2 separate regions of the Homo sapiens genome follow, and region 1 is linked to region 2. Evidence: fine-mapped expression QTL. Tissue or cell type: prefrontal cortex. Region 2 holds a variant in brackets; the other region holds the start of a gene. All regions are shown on one strand. Distances are from middle to middle.

The links. PIP is the estimated chance that this variant, and not a neighbour inherited with it, causes the effect.
Region 1: it holds the start of OR52E4, and the variant in region 2 is fine-mapped to the expression of OR52E4 in prefrontal cortex (CommonMind, PIP 0.90).

Annotation. Positions count from the first base shown.
Region 1 is chr11:5,876,012-5,884,123 of GRCh38, forward strand. It overlaps OR52E4 (olfactory receptor family 52 subfamily E member 4), which reads left to right and starts at 4,618. Exons shown (of 2, transcript NM_001005165.2): 1 at 4,618-4,703. It overlaps LOC112268071 (a long non-coding RNA gene), which reads right to left. Exons shown (of 3, transcript XR_002957231.2): 3 at 5,084-5,418.
Region 2 is chr11:5,929,098-5,937,209 of GRCh38, forward strand. All of the region lies in intron 2 of LOC112268071 (a long non-coding RNA gene), which reads right to left. Among named protein-coding and RNA genes, the nearest start is that of OR56A3, 9.1 kb to the right of the region's middle. The variant CCCTCTT/C (reference allele first, on the strand shown) is at 4,896.

The DNA of each region.
Region 1 (8,112 bases), 53 kb before region 2:
ACTACCATTTTTTATTTTCTATTGCCATTTTTGAAAACCATGAATGTGTTGTTTATGTCAATTTTGGCCATATGCAGGAGGGTTACTTAAGCCCAGGATTTCAAGACCAGCCTAGGCAACTTATGGAGACCCTGTTTCTATAAAAAATAATAATAAAATTTTTTAAATTATATTTTTATATACTAATAAAAAATTTATAAATTAAAATCTTGAAAATTATATATTTTTAAATGGCATCGATCATTAAAAAGTCAGGAAACAACAGGTGCTGGAGAGGATGTGGAGAAATAGGAACACTTTTACACTGTTGGTGGCACTGTAAACTAGTTCAACCATTGTGGAAGTCAGTGTGGCGATTCCTCAGGGATCTAGAACTAGAAATACCATTTGACCCAGCAATCCCATTACTGGGTACATACCCAAAGGATTATAAATCATGCTGCTATAAAGACACATGCACACGTATGTTTATTGCGGCACTATTCACAATAGCAAAGACTTGGAACCAAGCCAAATGTCCAACAATGATAGACTGGATGAAGAAAATGTGGCACATATACACCATGGAATACTATGCAGCCATAAAAATGATGAGTTCATGTCCTTTGTAGGGACATGGATGAAGCTGGAAACCATCATTCTCAGCAAACTATCGCAAGGACAAAAAAACCAAACACTGCATGTTCTCACTCATAGGTGGGAATTGAACAATGAAAACACATGGACACAGGAAGCGGAACGTCACACACCGGGGCCTATTGTGGGGTGGGGGCAGCGGGGAGGGATAGCATTAGGAGATATACCTAATGTTAAATGATGAGTTAATGGGTGCAGCACACAATCATGGCACATTTATACATATGTAACAAACCTGCACATTGTGCACATGTACCCTAAAACTTAAAGTATAATAAAAATAAATAAATAAAATAAATAAATAAATAAATAAATGGCATCACAGAACATCAAATGCTTTGACCTAACTCTAACAAATGATATGCAAAACTTCTAAAATAAAAGCATAATAATCCTTCAAAGGAACTTTTTAAATACATAAATACATGAAAAGATATACCTAGTTCATGATTTGGAATAATCAATAACCTTTTAAAAACATTCTCTAAAATTGAACTATATATTCAATGCAATAAATATTTTAATGAATTTGTTTGCTTATTTGTCCTCTTGTTTTTGTTTTCAAAGTGTTATAAACATTTTAAAAGAAATTGGCTGGAAATCCTGAAGAACAAAATTTTAGGATTTATGTTATTATATTCCATAATTTATTTTATAGTATCACTTATGAAAACTGTGAAATACTTGTACAAGAACAGACAAAAAGCAGAACCACACAGTCCAAACACAAAAATACACATGTATAAATGTATAATTTATGACAAACAGCTTTTTAATAAATGAAGCAAGATCAAATGAATAGCCAAAGTAAATCAATTATATATTGAAAAATAATTGCCTCTATGTCACTGCCCTTTCAATGTGATAGTTAATATCCTCTCATCAAGGGGTTAATCTTGACAATGTGAGCAAGATGGACTACTAAAATGTTCCAGCTCTTAGTTGCCTCACACCGATAGCCAGAACAATGAATTAATAATTACATTTTAATGAAAGTAACTGAAGGAGAGGAGTGCTCATTTGTGAGACCCTGAGCCTAGAACCCTGGCTCCACAGCCACTCCAAGCCACTGTACTTCGAGCCCAGCGCTGCTGCAGCTGCTTATAGGCCATGTCAAATCTGAGGGATTCTGTCAGCTGAGTCCCCTCACTGCGGGAAAAATTAAAAATAAGAGGACCCCAAAAGCCCTTGACACTAAGGACATAAACAAATTGTGCCACCACTACTGCTGTGCCACTACAAACTTCTACAGTCTAAGCCACTGAGGCACCCACAGTTATTGCTGACATTAAACTCAGCTCAGGAAGCTGCACGGAGACTATGCTACACCCATCTGGAAACAGAGTCACCACACTCTTCCCAACTGGCACACTAAAACCCAACTGCAGGTGATAGTTGTCCTGTATAAAAACCACTCTGGAAAGTTTGGAGATAAGCAGATACACAGGCATCAATATAGAGACACAAGAAACATGAAAAGGCAAAGACATATGATACCACCAAAGGAACATAACACTGTAGTAACAGACTCCAGTAAAAAGAAAATCAACAAATTGCCAAAGAAAAAAAATCAAAATAATGATGCTGAGAAGACTCAATAAAATACAAGAATATACAGCATAGACAATTCAATAAAATCAGGAAAACAATTCATGAAACAAATGAGAAATTCAACAGAAGATAAAAATCATAAAAATCAAATAGAAATCCTGTAGCTGAAGAATTCAATGAATAAGTTTTCAAGTTACAATAGAGAGATTCAATAGCAGACTTGGTCAAGCAGAAGAATCTGTTGACAGGTTGTTTGAAATAAGTCAAAGAAAAACAAAAGAAGGATTTAAAAAAGTAAAGAAATAATGGTGTTCCTTAATGGGATGCCATTAAGTAAACAAATATTTGTATTATGAGAATTCTAGAAGGAGAAGAGAAAGAAAAGGACAAAGGAAACCTATTTAATAAAATAACAGCTGAAAACTTTCCAAATATGAAGAGAGATGTAGATATCCAGATCCGAAAGCTCAAAATCCCCTATGTAAATTCAACTCAAGAAGGTCCTCCCCGAGGCATTATAATGTCAAACTGTCAAAAGTCCAAGACAAAAAGTCTCTAGGCCTTTAGGCTATTTGGCATGAGGAAACAGTGAAAATAGTGGGAAAATATATCCAATCCTTCAACACTTTTCAGAAGTAATGTCCTCAGGGAACAGCTGGGTTTCTGTTTCAAAAGGAAGAGAAACAGAACATCAGAAGTGGTTTAAGGCCAAAAATAATATCACTGCTCATAAAAAATTGATTCTAGAAGTCACAGTGAAATAGTCTTGGGAATAGGAGAGGGGTAGGTACAGTGACCAATTAGGAGATATATGATTATATGATATGACCCTAACAGAACTAGAATTTTTATGTTTTAAAAATAATGTAATTCAATGCCAGAACACCTCCTACAATCAAAGCACTATACTAAGTGAACTGAAGGATAAAGTTGACTTAAACATCACTCTAATATCAATCCATAAAATAATGGAAGACAGAAAACACAAAACCAACACAAAATAAAATTTGCCTGTTATAATAGTGGCACACACTGATGTGAAAATACAAAAGACACAAAGATTATATCAGATTGATTCATATGAAAGGTCATTAAGAAGTATAGGACAATTGAGAAAGTGCTGAAGCAAAGTAGAAATGAGATGAAGTTATTTCATATGGAGGACTTTTGATTATCAAAGACAAGATGTGTGTTCGGGAGTCATGTAGTATAATGAAAGTATAAAAAGTTGATTGGGTATTGAGTGAAGGACTTTGGCAACAATGGTGTTTGCCCCTTATTACATAAAGTCTACAGTATACAATGGAGAATGTAGGGGTCATGGGAAGGAATTTTAAGCAGAAATTGGATAGAGTCAGACTTGATTTGGGAAGATAAATGTGGATACAGTAAGGAAGATGGACACAATGAGGGAGAAACAGGAACCTCAGGAGTTACTTTCTCATTAATCAAAAGAGAAGTAATGAACACAAGAACGTGGCAGATCAAACCAGAATCTCTCTTGGACCACAGACGACATTGCTGTTTCTGTGCTAACAACTCAAAATAGTCTGAACTTAGGAGGCAAAAAATACCAACTAATTGTCTAATGTACTTATTTTTCCCTCAGTCTATTTCTAACTATAGTCAGGAAAACCAGGCTCTGCAGCATGTCCTGGTAGTACTATCGGGTCTACTATGTCATCATTCAGGAAGGGAGCCTCTCAGGAAACACTACCTCTGCTCTGGCTGGAAGGGACAATATAATATGTTTTATAAGGAAAACGTAGAATTTTCTTCACTTTCTGCCAAAAGAGCTGAAACACATGAAAGCCTCTCTTCAAAGACTATCTGTTCACCATTAGTTATAGACTGAGAAGGAGAATCTTGGTGGGTTGGAAGAAAGTTGCTGCTATTATCTGCAGGCATGCACACTGCCAATAAACAGAGTTGTACCACAGAGTCTAATTTGTCTATTTGAGATGTCTTCTCCTTCATCTTTTGAAGCCTCAATTGTAACAGCTGTGAAACTACATCAGGATTTACACAAACATATTAAAACAGAAAAGTTGCTGAGAACAGTTTCATGGTCACACTGTGAAGAGTTAATGGTCCAAAATCAATGCTTTCATGGCTCCTGAGGGAAGCGGAATTAACATCATTCCCCAAACAGATTCCTCTCTCTTCAGGATAGCTCCCTTCCCATCCTTTCATAACACATCTGCTCCCCTGAGCTAAGGAGTTATATCTAGCATGGTGTTTCTCTGCAGATGCAGTGAAGAGGAATAAAGACTTACTATGACTTAATGACCCTCGAGTCCATGTTTCTGCCCAGAGGATTCCGAAGACTAGGCTCGGGGATTCTGGGACATGCCTGGTCATAGGGATGCTCTCACTCACTATAAAGTTGCCTCCACTTTACCAAGCAGGCTTGTTGCTCAGAGGCTTCAAGGGGAACCTAATCACGGTCTTTAAGAACCTGGACTCATGCTCCAATTCTGCTCCAAGTGAGGGCTGGGAGAAGAAATATTACAGAGGTAAGAATGCTTGTGCAGGAGAAGTGAAAAGATACACAGGAGAGAAGAAGAGGGCAAATGAGGATAGAGAGGCCAGATTCTTCCACTTTTCTGAGGAATTATCCTAAGCACCATTGCACCATTTTCTTCACAGAGGAACACAACAGAGCACATGGGATTGGTGAGGGCAGTGGTGTACCAATTAGTAATGCACAGAATTTCTGTCTGTGTATCTCTCTCTCTCCCCCCTTTCTCTCTGCCCCTCTCTCTTACACACACATACACTCATACACACACATTCTCACAGAGTACACTGTTCACAGCCGAAACACCACAAATACAGTCATATAGTAGCATGGCCATACTTGTTGTCAATAAGACAAAAGGATGTTATTGCAGACTTCTTTTGTATGTGTTTATTTAAGGTGGTGGGTGGGTATCACATGTCAATATTCAAATACAATTACATAGGCATTAACATATTTGGTCTGTAAAGTTTTATTCTCTGTTTCCCTCATTGTCTGAGTGAATTTAATGTTGCCAGTTGTAACTTGGTTCCCTATATCCCTACTACTTTATGGAACCATCCCCAAGCCATTTTTATTGTAAGCACAATACCCCTGCTAGATCAGCCGGACTGAACCGCCAATGGCACAGTTATGGAAGAGCCTGAATGAAGGTATTTATCCACTTTATCCATTCATCAACTGCTTTGGTCTCACCAAGATTGGGAAAGCTGTAAGAATAAGAGGAGAAAATTGTTTCTTTTCTAAATGAGCAGTATTGGGTCATATTTGTATCCATAAAAATCTAGACATAAATATTAATGTCTGACTCTGTGCCATTTCTTCACTTTGGCCTCTTCTGAGCCATTCCTCCTTTATCTAATCTTAGGCCAAACTGTGACATAATTTGGACTTTTTACAATGAAATAACTTCTTTCTGCTAACAGGTGAATTATTTTAGCTATCTTGCATTTAAATAAACAAAATATTTGGGAGCATTAATAAAATAAGTAAGTATAATTTGTTGAGGATACACTATGCACTAGCACCTATACAAACATTGGTCTTATTTATCATTAAAATAAACCACATTAGTTATAATTTATCATCTCATTTTTACAGGAGAAAAAAAAACTGATCTATCTGGTTAAAGAATCTGTCCAAGGGTCTCAAGCAAGTAAATGGTTTAGCAGGTTTTCCAGCCATGTCTGAAAAGTTTTAAGGTCCACAGAAGACTTCTGTAATATTCTACTACAGTCAGCAAAAAAATAAAAATCCAACAAAGTAAAAAAAATCACAAGTTCAAAATGTGAACTTTGGTGAGCACAATAAGAGAAAAATTGCTAATTGTTATGAATTTGTCTTTTCAGATGGACTCCAGTAGGGATCTTTGTCAATGTGCATATCTAGAGAAGAACAAACTTAATAATTTGCCCTCAAAAAATGATCTTGAGGTTATTGGCCATACACTGTCTGCTACTGTGGCATATAGTTATAACAGAAAGAAGGCAAGAATTCAGGTAAAACTGTGAGAGGGTGGATGTGCTGGCAGCTTTGAATTTTACTGTCAGAGAAGCGTCCTCTTTGCCATCTCCCTGGGAATGTTTTTCTCAGCTGGCAAAGTATCATGTTGAGACACAGCCACCCTTAAGATTGGGCTGACTCTGGACTGTAAATCTCACAACACATCATCCTAGCTATTTCCTCAGACTCTCCCAGGTGAAATCACAAAAACCACTGCCCTCTGATTTTTCAGCCTGGCATCTTTTCCTCAATACTGGCAAACATTATGTTCTTTTTTCAATTTTCTCTCAGCTTCTCGGGGACCAAGAAATGCTCTTGTTCTTCTCATACAGAATGGGGAATTATTAACTCCTTTGCTTGTGTACTTCTGCTGTAAAATAGCTACCTGGCAAAGTTACAGGACAACTGATGTATGCAGCCACGTACATAATAAAACATGATTTCTCTCTCTACTCCTATCTCTCCAACCTTCTCCGTCTCTCTCTCTCTCTCTCTCTCTCACTCTCTGTCTCTGTCACACACACTCACACACAAACAAAAGCACACTTATTACAAACCCCAACTCTGATTCAATTAAATGCTGAACAACTGGGAACCAACATTCATGTGGCAGTTTTGAGAGTATTACAATGATTACCCCTGGTTCTCAACTCTTAGTTGCAGCTATTCTCTTTGTAGAAATAAGGCCAGTACATGCATAAATATTATACAATCCAGGTTACATTAGTTGCTACAGAGTTGTACAGTGTCTTTAGGGATGCAAAGTTAAAATAAGGTAATTTTCCTTGTTATTGTCAAGGAATCAATGAAGAGTCCTTAAAACATTTTAATTTCAATATTAAAATTTGCTAAATATTTGATCTGTTTACACCTGAAGGTAGGCACAATTTTGGGACATGGGAATTTTTTTTATGTTACTAACTGATGTTATAGATTGTAAGGAAGATAAACATAATTTGGCAGATACACACAAGGCATTTTATTGGAAGGATATCAGGGAATCAGAATGACAGGATCTTGGAGAAACTGGATTGTTCATGAAGATTTAGAAGCATCAAAATTAGTAATTAATCCATAATAGAAATGCACTTATCAGTTTAGCTGAGTTAGAACCAGGAAAGTTCTAACAGAGACTGATTAACTACACTTATGTGATGTCACTGTATAAGATCCTTACGTTTATATTATAATAAAACATAGAAAGTGGTAGACAGTAGTACTTCTCCTTTGTACTAGGAATCTTTGTCTCATCTAGAAACTATTGAGATACTCAGAATTTTAGTTTCTCTGAATTACATCCATAATATTTATATTATTAGACATTAGAGCAAAATTTAAATATTTAATATTAAAATAATATTAACAAACTATTATATAAAACATAATTTGGTACTTTTTGTTAAAATCACTGTTTTTCAAGAAATTAGTTGTAAAAATGGTATCATTTTCCTTTGCAAATATTTTTATTGTCTAAGTTAAGATAATAGAGCTGAAATCTCACAACATCATTTACAATTTCATTTAATCTGTTATGGTAGCACCTCATATAACCTCTGGAAAATTTCACTATGTACTTATGAGAGAATGAGAGTGAGAATGGCTAAAAATTTTCTATTATAAAAATAGTTTTGAGCTTGTGAACTTCTGGAAAGGTACTTAGAAAACCCCAGAGATCTCAAGACCACACTTCAAAGAACACATGGAATGGTGATTTCCCAAAAAGTAAAGAAGGGCTACTTAGGAAAGTAATGGAAGGGAATGCCGTAATATAAATATGCATTGCATTATGAAATTTTTCCCATTCTTTCAAATATCTCAAAGATTACAAAACATAAAGCCATAAGCAATATTGCCTATGATGGATCTCAGAACAATAATCTGTGTTGAGAGGCTTCCTCGAT
Region 2 (8,112 bases):
TACTCGGAGACGTCTGTGTCTGAAGTAGCCGATCCGAGGCTCCAGGAGCCACGTGGTCTGAGTGACCCCAGAAGGATGCTTCTGCTGTCCCTCAGACCGTGGCCATAAAGGGAAGGGGATGGGGTCCACCCAGTCCAAAATCGTGCAAAACACCCCCTTAGGGTGCCTCCTGCGCAACCTCCCAACTTTACAACTCGACCAAGATTTAAAACGAAAGCGACTAATTTTCTTCTGCACAGTTGCCTGGCCGCAATATACCTTAGACAACCAATCTCGCTGGCCCCCCGAAGGCACACTCAACTTCAATATCCTAAACGACCTTACCAATTTTTGTCAGAAGCAAGGCAAATGGTCAGAAATCAAATATGTTCAAGGGTTCTGGGACCTTCACTCTCCACCAGACCTCTGCGCCCCGTGTTCACTAGTGCAAGTCCTTTTAGCTAAAACCTCTCCCAAAACCTCTCCTGATCCGGACAAAGATGATCTTTCTCCTCTCTCAGACCCCATAGATAACTTATCTTCCCCTCCCCTCCAAACTGCAGCCCATGCTCTGCCGCCACCATACGCTTCCCCACCCCCCTCGGCTCCACCTTCAGGTCACGCACCGCCCACTTCCTCACGGGTCCCTCCTTCGCCAATCACGCCACCTCCTCCTCCACCTCCATCATCTCCTCCTCCTCCACCACTACCCTCACCTGCCCCTCCCAAGTCCCCTGTGGCCGCACACACCCAGGCCAGGCCGGCACTCCTTGCCCCGCTGCGCGAAGTGGCTGGAGCAGAAGGCATTGTTCGAGTTCATGTGCCTTTCTCCCTCGTTGATTTGTCCAAAATAGAAAGACACCTAGGCTCTTTCTCCACCAACCCTACTCTTTTCACAAAAGAATTTCACTATCTCTGTCAGGTTTATGACCTCACTTGGCACGATATCCATATTATTCTTACCTCCACCCTTTCCCCTGAGGAAAGAGAACGCATTCTAATTGCAGCACGGCAGCATGCCAATCAATTACATCTAACAGACCCCAACGTACCCGTTGGAACACAGGCGGTTCCATCCACCGATCCAGAGTGGGATTACCAAGTTGGGCAAGCAGGGCGTCGCCGCCGGGACATAATGGTTCAATGCCTCCTGGCAGGGATGCAGGTGGCCTCCAATAAATCAGTCAACTTTGACAAACTAAAGGAAATTGTACAATACCCGGATGAAAATCCGGCAGTCTTCCTAAATCGGCTGACTGATGCCTTAGTCCACTATACCCGCCTAGATCCGGCCTCCCCTGCAGGGGCAACCATCTTGGCAACATATTTTATTTCCCAGTCAGCAAGAGATATTAGAAAAAAACTAAAATAGGCGGAGGAAGGCCTCCAAACCCCTATTCAGGACTTAGTAAAGCTGGCGTTCAAAGTTTTTAATTCCCGAGAGGAGGCGGCTGAGGTACAACAACAGGCAAGATTAAAACAAAAAGTTCAGCTCCAAACCCAGGCCCTGGCGGCTGCCGTGCAACCGGCATTCCCTAAGAGCCCAGGCAAGAAAGGTAGAGGTACAATCTCCCGGGCCCCATCTGGCGCCTGCTTCAAGTGCGGCAACTCGGGACACTGGGCCAGCCGGTGCCCTAGCCAACAGCAACCGTCCTGCCTGCCTTACAACTGTTTCAAGTGCGGCAATCCAGGTCATTGGGCAAAGCAGTGCCCAAACCCCAAGCCGCCAATGCGCCCGTGCCCTAACTGCCGACAAATGGGGCACTGGAGGTCAGACTGCCCCGGCCTCAGAGCGGCCGCTGTGTCTCCACATGGCGACCCCTCCCCGGATGGTGAAGGCGCCTTCCAGCTCCTCCAACTGGACGATGACTGAAGAGGCCCAGACTCGGGAACCCCTCTCACCCTTGCCAAGCTCAGGGTAATGCTTCAGGTAGCAGGTAAGTCCATTTCCTTTTTACTGGACCCAGGGGCTACCTACTCTGTTTTGCCATCTTTTAGTGGGCCCAGCCAACCCTCCTCAATCTCTGTTATGGGGATTGATGGCACTCCCTCCACCTACCGCCAGACACCTTCACTGCCCTGCCGCCTAGACCACTCGTTCTTCACACACTCTTTCCTCATCATCCCTTCATGTCCAGTCCCTCTCCTAGGGAGAGATCTCCTGACCAAGTTAGGAGCCTCAGTAGTCTTCCGGCCCGGCCCATCCACCCACCTAGCTCTTCTCCTACCCCTCCTCTCAGCCGATACAGCAGCCCAGGCCTCTCCAACCCTGCCATTAGTCTTCCCTACCCCCGTTGACCCCAAAGTTTGGGACACCAACACTCCCGTTGTTGCCACACACCATAAGCCAGTCCTTATTAAGTTAAAGGACCCACTCAAGTTCCCTGCCCGACCTCAGTTCCCCATTTCCTTAGAGCACCGTCGAGGACTAAAACCCATTATTATTCGGCTTCTACAACAACACATCCTAATTACCACTAATTCTCCTTGCAATACTCCTATTCTGCCGGTACGAAAAGCCTCTGGGACTTACCGTCTAGTACAAGATCTTCGCCTCATCAACGAGGCAGTCATCCCTACAGTCCCGGTAGTTCCTAATCCATACACACTCCTCTCTCGCATCCCCCCCAACAGGTCTCACTTCACTGTTCTGGACCTTAAAGATGCCTTTTTCTCTATCCCACTAGACCCCGCTTGTTACTTCCTCTTTGCTTTCACATGGGAGGACCCAGACACTGGCGTCTCTAAACAACTCACCTGGACGGTTCTGCTACAGGGGTTTAGAGACAGCCCTCATTTCTTTGGACAGGCACTGGCCCAAGACCTCGCTCGCTGCCCTTTGGAGGCCAGTACTGTTATCCAATATGTTGATGACCTGCTCCTTTGCAGCCCCTCTGAGACAGATTGCCTTAAGGACACTTGTACTCTCTTAAACTTCCTAGGAAACTGAGGCTATAGAGTCACCCCGTCCAAAGCCCAACTATGTACCTCTAAAGTCACCTACTTAGGTATACGTCTCACCCCAAACTCAAAAGGCCTAACCTCAGACAGAATCAGCCTTTTACAAAATCTTCAGCCTCCACAAGATGCTGAAGATATTCTCTCCTTCTTGGGGCTAGTCGGCTTTTTCAGACATTGGGTCCCCAATTTCGGAGTCCTAGCAAGGCCCCTGTATCAGGCCACCAAACAGACCCCCCTTGGCCCACTGTCTGAGCCAAAACTAGTAGCCAATCTTTTCAATAAGCTTAAAAATTGCCTCATAACAGCCCCAGTCCTCTCACTCCCAAACCCGCTACGCCCATTCCATCTCTTTACCGATGAGCGGGAAAAGGTTGCTACAGGGCTCCTGGCCCAACTGGTAGGAAGAACACACCAGCCAGTAGCCTACCTTTCCAAGCAGCTCGAGCCCACTGTCCAGGGCTGGCAGCCGTGCCTGCAGGCTTTGGCTGCGGCAGCGAAACTCACCAAAGAGGCTCTTAAGCTTACCTTAGGGCACCCTCTCACTGTTTTCTCCTCACATAGGCTACAAGACTTACTCTCACACAAGTGCCTGAGTCACCTGACCCCCTCCAGACTCCAGCTATTTCATCTCCTGTTTATTGAAAACCCACACATCACACTTACTACCTCTCCAACTTTAAACCCAGCTACCCTCCTCCCCTGCCCAGAAAAGGACCCTGCATCCTTACACTCGTGTTCTTAAATCCTATCAACCCTACCCCCCGCGCACCTAAGCCTCCAAGACAACCCCATCCTAGATCCCCATCAGACCCTGTCTGTGGATGGTAGCTCCATCTCCACGCCGCAGGGCCAACGACGAGCGGCATACGCCGTGGTCACCTCATCTCAAGTAGTTGAGGCCAAACCACTTCCCACTGGTATAACCTCCCAGAAGGCAGAACTCATAGCTCTTACTAGAGCTCTAATTCTATCTAAAAACAAAAAAGTAAACATATACACTGATTCCAAGTATGCCTACTTAATAGCGCATACCTACTCCATTCTCTGGCAGGAACGGGGGTTCCTTACCACTAAAGGTACTCCTATTGTCAATGGACCCCTCATTGAGAAACTCATCCAGGTGCTAAAAGCCCCCACACAGGTAGCCATCATCCATTGCAAAAGCCACCAAAATTCTAAAGACCCTATATCATTAGGCAACAATTTCGCCAACACCACTGCCCGGGCCACGGCCCTCTTGGCCCCTTCCCCCACTCCTGTGTGCTTCCTCTCTCCTGCTTACACTCCCGATTACTCCCCTGAAGAGCTAGTCCACCTCATGGGTCACTCAGGAGTAAAAACCAACTCCAATGAGCGCTTTCATAGCCACACCCCTAACAAGAGTAATCAGGGCTGGATATTCGTGGATGATAGAGTAGTTCTCCCGTGCAGTCAGAAGAAACTCATCCTCACCGACATGCACCGTTCGTTACATATAGGCCCAAAGGCTTTATATAACTTTCTTGAACCCATAATCTACCATCCTTCCCTTTATTCCTTACTGAAGCAAATACATCAGGAATGCCATGTTTGCACAGTGGCAAACCCTCAGGGAAAACTTAAGCTCCCAGGTCCCTGTCACCAGCTAAGAGAACATCAGCCAGGAGAAGACTGGCAAGTTGACTTCACCCACATGCCTAGACACAAAAAGTTCCGTTATCGCTCCTGGTCCTTCAGATTTCAGCTCCTCAGACTCCTCTACAGGGAAAGCCCTCCCTGACTCCCCCAGCCAAGATGGGTCTCTTTGTTTTCAGATGAGATCGGCAGCTTGGGGCCAGGTGCAGTGGATCACGCCTGTAATCCCAGGACTTTGAGAGGCCGAGGCGGGCAGATCACCTGAGATCGGGAGTTCAAGACACAGCCTGAGCAACATGAAGAAACCCCGTCTCTACTAAAAATACAAAATTAGGAGCTCT[CCCTCTT/C]CCTCTCCCTCTCCCTCTCCCCACGGTCTCCCTCTCCCTCTCTTTCCACGGTCTCCCTCTCATGCTGAGCCGAAGCTGGACTGTACTGCTGCCATCTTGGCTCACTGCAACCTCCCTGCCTGATTCTCCTGACTCAGCCTGCCGAGTGCCTGCGATTGCAGGCTCGCGCCGCCACGCCTGACTGGTTTTGGTGGAGACGGGGTTTCGCCGTGTTGGCCAGGCCGGTCTCCAGTCCCTAACCGCAGGTGATCCGCCAGCCTCGGCCTCCCGAGGTGCCGGGATTGCAGACGGAGTCTCGTTCACTCAGTGCTCAATGGTGCCCAGGCTGGAGTGCAGTGGCGTGATCTCGGCTCGCTACAACCTCCACCTCCCAGCTGCCTGCCTTGGCCTCCCAAAGTGCCAAGATTGCAGCCTCTGCCCGGCTGCCACGCCGTCTGGGAAGTGAGGAGCGTCTCTGCCTGGCCGCCCATCGTCTGGGATGTGAGGAGCCCCTCTGCCTGGCTGCCCAGTCTGGAAAGTGAGGAGCGTCTCCGCCCGGCCGCCATCCCACCTAGGAAGTGAGGAGCACCTCTTCCTGGCTGCCATCACATCTAGGAAGTGAGGAGCGTCTCTGCCCGGCCGCCCATCGTCTGAGATGTGGGGAGCGCCTCTGCCCCGCCACCCCGTCTGGGATGTGAGGAGCACCTCTGCCCGGCCACCACCCCGTCTGGGAGGTGTGCCCAACAGCTCATTGAGAACGGGCCAAGATGACAATGGAGGCTTTGTGGATAGAAGGGCGGGAAAGGTGGGGAAAAGATTGAGAAATCGGATGGTTGCCGTGTCTGTGTAGAAAGAAGTAGACATGGGAGACTTTTCATTATGTTCTGTACTAAGAAAACTTCTTCTGCCGTGGGATCCTGTTGATCTGTGACCTTACCCCCAACCCTGTGCTCTCTGAAACATGTGCTGTGTTCACTCAGGGTTAAATGGATTAAGGGCGGTGCAAGATGTGCTTTGTTAAACAGATGCTTGAAGGCAGCATGCTCGTTAAGAGTCATCACCACTCCCTAATCTCAAGTACCCAGGGACACAAACACTGCGGAAGGCCGCGGGGTCCTCTGCCTAGGAAAACCAGAGACCTTTGTTCACTTGTTTATCTGCTGACCTTCCCTCCACTATTGTCCTATGACCCTGCCAAATCTCCCTCTGTGAGAAACACCCGAGAATTATCAATAAAAAATAAATAAATTAAAAAAAAAAAAAAAGTTCCGTTATCTTCTTACTCTAGTAGATACTTTCTCAGGTTGGATTGAAGCCTATCCCACCACTCATGAAACAGCAGAGGTGGTAGCTTCAACCCTCATTGAACACATAATCCCGAGATTTGGCCTCCCTCGGACAATCCAATCTGAAAATGGGCCTGCTTTTATCTCCAAGATAGTCAAACAGGTGACAACCACACTTGGCGTTAACTGGAAGCTACACACTCCATACCATCCACAGTCTTCTGGAAAAGTGGAACGCGCCAACGGCCTTGTCAAACAACACCTAATCAAACTGGCTCTGGAGACACGCCAATCGTGGGTAACCTTACTTCCCTTTGCCCTCGCGCGGCTCCGGGCAGCACCCCGAAGCCCCACAGGACTTAGCCCCTTTGAACTCCTATAGGGGCGCCCCTTCCTCTTTCAAGAGCTCCCTGTGAATACCCCACCTCTTAGCACGTACCTGCCCTACCTCACCCTGTTAAGGGAGCTGCTAAGAGAGCACGCCGACCGCAGCCTTCCAAAGCCCGGACCACTCGGCCCAGACAGTCTGGCCATAATAACCCCAGGAGATCAGGTACTAGTAAAAGACCTCCAGGCAAGAGGCCTCTCCCCCCGGTGGAAAGGCCCCATACGGTAATTCTTACAACACTGACGGCAGCTAAACTTATAGGCCTTCCTTCCTGGTACCATATTTCCCATCTTAAGAGGGCACCTACACAAGATCAGGCCACTTGGACTGTCACCTCCCTCTCCCCAACCAAACTGAAACTCTCTAAATCAAATACCGCATGAATTCTCCGTGTGACAGGCTCCAACAATTTATTCAAGTTCTTCTCGAGGAAAGCTGGTCATTCCCTACTTTTGCTAACACACTTCACTGGCCTGAAAATCTGTTAGCCTATATAGACGAACTAGTGTGGCAAGGCTCCCTCCAGAACTTTCACCAACAAGAAGTTCGCTTTTTTTGTCTTGTCACTCTTCTTACTCTTGCACACCAGTCGTAGTAGACAAGCCCCCTCTCAGACTCCCTCTCACTGGGTTTTTTTCCTCACTGAGAATTGGAATTCCGGACAGGCAGTCTCCTCTAGACTAGTAGCCACGGCAGCATGCCCGCCAGCAAGGTGCCAGGCACCCATAACTTTCCTAGGTCTAAAATTCTCCTCCTTAGGCCCAAATACAAAAAACCCAGCGCTTTGCTTCCTGTATGATCAAAGTAACTCCAAATGCAATACCACCTGGGTCAAAGAAAATGTAGGCTGCCTGTGGCACTGGTGCAATATCCATGAGGCATCCATTTATAGAAAGGATACCATGTTCTCTGTCAACACTTCAGGAGGCTTTAACGGATTTAACCTCCAAATCTCTGACCCTTGAGACCCCCGCTGGGCCTCCGGTATAGATGGAGGACTATATGAGCACAGAACTTTTATGTATCCGGTAGCTAAGATCCGCATTGCCAGGACCCTTAAAACCACTGTCACAGGGTTATCCGACTTAGCCTCCTCAATCCAGTCGGCCGAGAAGGCTTGCCAACCAGCTTCAACTGGCAGCTGACCAGGCCATGTCCTCCCCCTTCTCGTGGTTAACTTTAATCTCAGAAGGTACACAACTGCTCCAATCCACAGGGGTACAAAACCTCTCCCACTGCTTCCTCTGTGCGGCCCTTGGAAGACCTCCCTTAGTGGCAGTTCCTCTCCCTACCCCCTTTAATTATACAAGAAATTCATCCACCCCTATACCACCGGTCCCGAAAGGACAGGTCCCACTATTCTCAGACCCTACAAGACACAAGTTCCCGTTCTGTTACTCCATCCCAAATGCCTCTTGGTGTAACCAGACCAGGATGCTTACCAGTGCCCCGGCACCACCCGGAGGCTACTTCTGGTGTAACTCCATGCTAACTAAAGTTCTTAACTCAACTGGTAATCACACCTTGTGCTTACCCGTCTCTCTCATCCCTAGCCTGA